Linked DNA regions of Homo sapiens. The protein of the gene in region 1 interacts with the protein of each later gene in a pairwise test. Each region holds a gene or a part of one and is shown on either strand. Other genes may lie near its edges.

Region 1 (3,830 bases):
GGACTGAGTATTTTATGAATGAATAAAATATGCAAAATAATCTGAAATCTACTAATAACTGTTCTTGGTTGGGGGGAATTTTCTACATGAGTTGAACTGGCTAAGTCTTCTCAAACATGAGTCCATTTGGACTGAAGTCATCTTATTCTTTTCCTAGTCTTGTTCCAAGAACCCCAAATGGCTTTCCAATTTAAGGCCAAAATTTTCCATAAAAATTGATGTGATGAAACATTTAAATAGTAAATGTTGGGAGAGAGATTGTTTCCATGGTGACTTCTGCTTCAGGAGTCCTTGTTCTAAGCACAGAAGAGAATGACTGAACTGAGACACCACTAACTTCACATCATCCAGTTGCCATTAACCTAATTTCAGCCAGCTTTATCAGTGCCGATGGCAGTGACCCTGTCTTTGATTCATTCCTGGGAGGTTCTTATTTTGGTAAAATGAGTTCATAAAAGCAGATGAAGGTGGTGGGAAAGGTCAATCCTACTATTGAAAGTTGAGATGTGAGCCGGGTGTGGTGACTCACGTCTGTAATCCCAGCACTTTGGGAGGCCGAGGCAGGAGGATCGCTGGAGCCCAGGAGTTTGAGACCAGCCTGGGCAACATGGTGAGATCTCATCTCTACAAAAAGTTAAAAAAGTTAGCCAGGCACAGTGGTGCATGCCTGTGGTCCCAGCTACTCAGGAAGCCGAGGTGGGAGGATCGCTAGAGCCCAGGTGTTCCAGGCTGCAGTGAGTTGTGTTTGCTCCAGTGCACCCTGGCCTGGGCCACAGAGCAACACTGTCTCAAAGAAAAAGAAAGAAAGAAAGAAAGTTGAGATGTGCTAACACTTACCTGTGGAATGACTTTTCTCTTTGTGTGGTGCCAAAGTTTTCTGGTTTCCCTCTGAAGAGTATATGTCTGGGGTATATCCTGTCTGTGTTCCCAGCCACACTGCAATGACAGGGGGGCCACCCTGCTCCTCTGGAACAGAACAACTTCCTGAGTACAGACCAGATGTTGAACAATGGCCTTACTGTCCGAAACGTGGACAGCAGATACTTCTTTTGTGACCCCCTGCTTTCCCTAACTAAACACCCCTTGTTCTTTTTTAACCATTTCACAAAATGATCTTGTGGTAGCAGAAACCACTGCCATGTGGTTTTCTGTTATTAATCCTAAACTTTCTTTCCTTATTGTTTTATCATAAAACAGATAATGTTATTTTCACAAGCATTCTGAAAATTACCTAAGTAAATGTTATTCCCTTCAACATAGTTACCTTAGGAGAAAAAATGTTTATTCCATTGATGTGGTCATTGCCCAAAACATGTCTAGAACTCCCTTCTCAGTGCCACAAACTTGCTTCTCTCATATTCCAAAGTGTGTAGAGTGCAGCTCTATAGGAATACATGGCTAAAGATGTGAATACACGTGGGTTTTTGTCATATTTTACCTGTAACACATTTACACTTACTTCATCTTTTTCTTTCTAAATAATGAAAAATCCGGCTGGGCGCTGTGGCTCATGCCTGTAATCCCAGCACTTTGGGAGCCAAGGCAGGTGGATCACTAGGTCAAGAGTTCAAGACCAGCCTGGCCAAGATGGTGAAACCCCATCTCTTCTAAAAAAAATACAAAAAAATTAGCTGGACGCAGTGGCAGGCGCCTGTAATCCCAGCTACTTGGGAGGCTGAGGCAGGAGAATTGCTTGAACTCAGTGGACAGAGGTTGCATTGAGCCGAGATCGTGCCATTGCATTTCAGCCTGGGCAACAGAATGAGACTCCGTCTTAAAAAAAAAAAAAAAAAAAAAAAAAAAAGATCCAAATATTGAATGAACACTTTCATTTTTATATTAATGTCTACATTCGTTCATGGATAACTGTGTAACTCTTCACTTGACCCTAACTTTAGAAACTGCCCATATAGCACCTCAAATTTGATTTTAGCTAATAGCTATTAAAAATGCTATTATCTGTGTTAAGTGGAATTTTAGGTTTCATTGCCTAAAACCTAAAATGGAAGTAAAGTGGATTTTCTTGTCATCTACAGGAAATGTTTGATGTTATATTGGATGAAAATCAGCTTGAGGATGCATGTGAACATCTAGGGGAGTACCTGGAGGCGTACTGGCGTGCCACCCACACAACCAGTAGCACACCCATGACCCCGCTGCTGGGAAGGAATTTGGGCTCCACGGCACTCTCACCATATCCCACAGCAATTTCTGGGTTACAGGTATTGTCACTTTTTCACTCATGCTTTTTACAACCTTACATGTAAAATTCTATGGGAACTTGATTAGGATGGAGACTGGAGTCATCCTTAATCTGAAGAGGGAACACTATGTGCACATTATATTTAAAAATCTTAAATATTATCTAATTATGATCTATCCTAGAGAAAACTACCCAGAGACTGACAATTTCCTGAGAATTATGCTGTCTGTGAATTTACAGTGGATTTTACTTAGGTAAATTAACTCCTCCTATGTCTAAACTCTGCTGGCAAACGTAATGCCTACTCAATGCACCTGCCCATTACTTTTTTTTAGAGACATAGTCTCACTCTGTTGTTCAGGCTGGAATGCAGTGATATGATCATAGCTCACTACAGCCTCAAATTCCTGGACTCATGGGCTTATGCAGTCCTGCTGCCTCAGCCTCCCAAATAGCTGGGACTACAGGCACATACCACACACATGGATAATTAAAAAAAAAAAATTGTAGAGACAGTGTCAGTGTCTCACTTTGTTGCCCAGGATGATCTCAAACTCCTGGCTTCAAGCAATCTTCCTGCCTTGGCCTCCCAAAATGTTGAAATTACCATCATGAGCCACCACTCCTGGCCCCTCCATTACTTCTTAATGCCACTTCTTAAGGATTACACAATAGCTAAGTAAGATATATAGGTGCAGATAGGCCTTTCAGCTGCCCTTAATTAATCCTGCCGCACCCAGGTTGCTAGGCCTGCTCTCTACCTTGCACAAGACAATGTGGATATAAGTAGAGCTGCTCTGTTCAGAAACAGTAACTGATCCCTGAGTTTTCTTGGGGCTGTGCAGGTGCCCACCTTTGTAAGTGGCTGTGGCACGTGTCCTTTAGGGAAGCTGGTGACGAACACAGGATCAAGAGGTTCTCCCTTCTGCTGTTCTGGTATTGCACTCAGAGGTAGAGATAGGGAACCAGAGACCTTATGGTACAAAATGAGCCTGCCTTTCTACATCAATTATTATTTACCATTCATCAAGTAGCTGCTGGAATGTGGCCAAACCCGCAGCAAACTGAGGAACATGTAGTCAATTGAGCCCTCTTGTATCATGATGAGTTTTGTTTTAATGGATTATAATGATAGTCTTAATTGTCGATCATACAGAGTTAACTCTGAGATAAATGGCACTCTCTGAAATGCTATTATAGCTGTATTACTCTGTTACAAAATTGCATCTTTGTAAGCAGAAAAACTGTCATGCAAATGAATAGCTTTTGAAACTAGAAATGAACATGAAAAATGTACTGTGGTAATGTACAGCACATACGCATGCATTAGGACTATTTCATGCCTTGTTTCACTTCCCATGGGCTGATCTGAGTGTACATTACTATTGACTAGTGTGGATTGGCTCTGAATTGTACATTACAGAATGAGAAATAGATGCATGAAGCAATACACTTCTGTAATGTACGTAGAAATGCAATGTTGCACTTTTATATTGAATACAACAATCTTGACTCATCACTGCTAAGACATCCACCTAGAGTGGTTCTCCCTGTTTCACTAATGAGTTAATGTGTTGCCCTTTATTCTGTGGCCTATTTCTTCTCCCAGTAACAATTGACACTTCAT
Region 2 (3,830 bases), on another chromosome or scaffold:
GAGATACTTTGTAAGCTAGACATCTGTCTTATACAGTTTTTTATAACCTATACCTTGATAAAGAGAAATAGTCTAACTGAAAACCAAAAATTTCTATTCCTGAGTAGAAATCAAAGAGGAAAGTCTCTAGAGTTTTACGAGTGTAATGATAAAATTAATATTTCCCATTAATAACTCCTACAGATACTCAGTAAGTGCAATGGTGAGAAAAAGGATAGCGAAGTAGATAAAAATAGAGGGAAGAGACACAACAAATGAGGAGATGAACACACAAAATGGGGAAAGAGAACACACACACAAAATTAACCAAGAAAAAGGTATGAGAGACCTCTCACTTAGTGAACATTTACCATATGCCAGACTCTATGCTGGGTACTTCATGTTCTATTCTATTTCATCGGTAAGTAAGATAAGGGGTAAATCATGTTAGGCCACTTTCTAGGTTAAAATTCTGAATGGGCAGTTTACCTAAACCCCTAGATTCTAGAGTGAAACCCGTCAGCCTGGTGTTAAGTTTCAAACTCTGCTCGTACTCAAAGATTTCTGAAAGAGGAAACTTGCTCAATGGTCCACATTCCCTTAGCTCAGAAAAAAACATTGCACAATTTTTCAGAAACCCACTGGGTGTGATCTTGGATGTCATTACCACCTGATAATTATCCAGGTGAAAGTAACAAGTGTGAACCATGCACCCTGCACAAGTGGGCATTGTGAAGTACCAGTGGTTCATGTTCTCATATTCAACCAACAAGCCAACCAAACACCAGTCAATTAATAAAACCAATCAGTTAATAAACATTTCTTATGGTCCTACTTTATCACCCAAAAAATTTACACAAAGTCAAACACTTCAACAAAAAAGTCAATGAAACATCCCACTACTTTGTTAAATAATTATAAACATTGTAACTGAATGATCGAATTTTTTTTTTCATGAAGATGTCTGTAACATTACTATTAGTTCACTTATAGGAAAGAACTATCCATAAAATCATATAATTTTAAAACTCGGTATTTTTCCTGGGTATTCTTGAATATCCACAGTAGGGCTAAATCTGTGTCAATGTCTAAGAAAGGTTAGTCAACATTCTTAGATATTGAGACAGTAAATATATATATATATATATATATATATATATATATAATAAGTATACATGAATATTATATACAAAAATACTTAAGCTCTGCTCTCTTTTTTGGAAAGTATAAGTATACATACTTTTTTCCAAAAAAAAGAGCAGAGTTTAACTTAAGTATTTTTGACTCATTTTGTAAAATCAAATAGCAAACAGCAATGTTAGAGTGAAAAGTTCAATTTCAGCATGGGAATTAATAGGCCTGTTCTAAAACCTCATTTCATCATATAGGGGGTATAAAGTTCATAGCCTCAGATTGGTCACAGAAAACCTTAGGCTGAGAGGATTCCCAGGTGATGGACTTGATTGAGTTTCTCTGAAGGCCTGACGTTCTCTCTGATCTCCCTGGTGACCCCAAGAGGCCAGGGAATCCTAGGGACCTGGAGATCCTAAATGACTGAGCTGTCAGCAATCTCTTGCGTAATTACAGCCTTACGTCAGGAACTAAAGAGTGACTGCGAAAGGAGTTGTTTTAGGAATTTGGAGAAGCTAAGGGTTGTTTGCTTTTCTAGTATTGGTCTACTGAAATGTTTGCAGAGAAAAATGCTGGTGCCAGGCAGGCATCGCATAATCAGATACAATTGATTATTATGAAGCTTAAATGCACTAAACATATTGAACTTCCCTTTTCAAGTCATGGAAAAATACTGGGCTAAACTATTAAAACTGGGAATAAACAATGTGAGGAGTAGCATAAAAATGTGAGTCATTTAAAAAATGGATTTAATATCAGGCTTTGTGAATTATATTTGATGTTTGACCAATCATGCTCTCGTATCTTTAGGAGAAACAATGAACTGTCTGTGATATGCAGAAACAATCAAGGAAAAAGTACCATTTTATTTCTGTGTAATAGCTACATAACCTATGCAGAAAACACAAAATGATTGTGGAAAAATGAGAAATAAAATAATTTTTCGTTGTCATTTTAAAGCAGTAGTTTATGAGTGTGTGTGGCCTTTTGTAAGCTTTTAGAAAGAGTTCCTGTGGGCATGTGTGTTTGTTTGTGTCCAGGGTTGCTGTTTCTAGATCCAGTACACAAATGTCTCTCTTCTTTCAGATAACACCCAGAAGACCTGTACACTTTTTAACGAGGTGGTGCAGTGCCCTTGACCCTATTTTATCAGCTGTCAACAACTAGAGGCCCACATCCCCCTTTGTAAAGAGTATTTCTCAATAAGTTATTATATGAGCAGCAACTGGCGAGTACAGCTTGTGATGTTAGAAATGCTAGTAATTCCCTTACCTCTTCCTTCTCAGCACTTTGCAGGTCACGCCATTCCTCAGTTACATGGCCAAAATCCACTGTGTTCATAGGGACTTTAAATTCTCCAATGATGTCATGCTTAGAGAAACGATCAAAATCATATACAGCCATCACTAGGGTTTTGCCACCCAATTCCGAGTATGGTACCTAAATTAAAAGACATGAGGATAAAATATCCAGTCACAAAAATGCTTAAAACATGTTACTTGTTCATGGTGCTTAATTTAATATTTACGTTGCATAAACAGAACAGGGAGATAATTTTGTTTTTGGTTATTTTTTAAATTCAGACTTTTGACAAACTGCTTGAGGCTAAAATTACTTGAGAGAAAATGGGAAATTTTAGTGATTTATTGCCTTATCTCAAAGTTCTAGAAGCTGTTAGCATTATTAATAATGGATCCTGCTGTTAGTTATACTATAAAGCCTTAAGATTAATAAAACAATAAACAAGCCAATTGCATTTGACTATAAGTAAGTTTTTCTTGTAGAATATTTTGTTGTTATTGTTGTTTTAAGTTGTATTGTCAGGGTGTAACTTACTGAGGGGCAAATAACTTATTTCAAATGCTCCATTAACTCTTTCAAGGCATTTAAATGCCACAGTTCAATGGAGCAATGATTTATTAAAGGCTATGCTAGGAGTCTGAAAGGATTGAAATGATATTCACAAGTGCCTCACCTACTCCCTAAAATAATTTGCTGATTGACAAGAACTGACTAGGAAATTGATGTTTTGAATATAAGAGGTGCATTATAATATGGGTTTTGAAGTTCATTCTTGGGTATGACATGCCTTAGGATGAGTGGTGGCAAAAGGCCAAGAACTGATGAATTCTCCAGCTGTTCAAATATATCTGGGACAGATGCTATGGGTTGGGATGTTTATTAGTGACATTTTTAATATTCAGTGAAAGCAGTGCAATCCAAGTAAGCTACACTTCAGTAACTGGGTAGAAATACCTAATTAAGAAATTGTTTAGACTTGTCTTAAAGGTTTGATCAATTTTCATACACTTCCTATTATTTTATCAGTGTAAATGGTTGTCTTATGCTTCAGCAAACATTTCTCAATTAACTCTGTATATTAAGGAGGGAAGAAAAGGAAGAATATTGGGCCATCTACATACAAGAAATTTTAGTTTTCCAAAGAGTTTTTCTTTTCTGTCATTTATTTACCATCTGTTTGGAACCTGATTATTTTATTAAAATGATATGATTAAAAAGTAAGCATCATCCTTTTTCCATTTTAGAAGGAATGGAAAATAAACCCTTCCAAAGAGCTGACTCTCAAAGAAAGAAACAAAATTTTTTAGAGTAAGGATAAACCCTTGAAAATGTTATTGTATATCTAAAATCTCTCTAGACTTTCTAGTGATTGTACTCAAAGAGCAACAGTCAAAAACCTGGACTTGGGGTCAGACAGA

What was found.
Region 2: the proteins of CACNB4 (region 1) and SYT1 interact in a two-hybrid assay, tested with the Homo sapiens proteins (one study listed by IntAct).

The regions. Positions count from the first base shown.
Region 1 is NC_000002.12:151,840,295-151,844,124, reverse strand, and holds part of CACNB4 (voltage-dependent L-type calcium channel subunit beta-4), read left to right. Parts: intron 1-2,036; coding exon 2,037-2,222; intron 2,223-3,830. UniProt on the Homo sapiens protein: The beta subunit of voltage-dependent calcium channels contributes to the function of the calcium channel by increasing peak calcium current, shifting the voltage dependencies of activation and inactivation, modulating G protein inhibition and controlling the alpha-1 subunit membrane targeting.
Region 2 is NC_000012.12:79,298,104-79,301,933, reverse strand, and holds part of SYT1 (synaptotagmin-1), read right to left. Parts: intron 2,551-3,830; coding exon 2,383-2,550; intron 1-2,382. UniProt on the Homo sapiens protein: Calcium sensor that participates in triggering neurotransmitter release at the synapse. May have a regulatory role in the membrane interactions during trafficking of synaptic vesicles at the active zone of the synapse.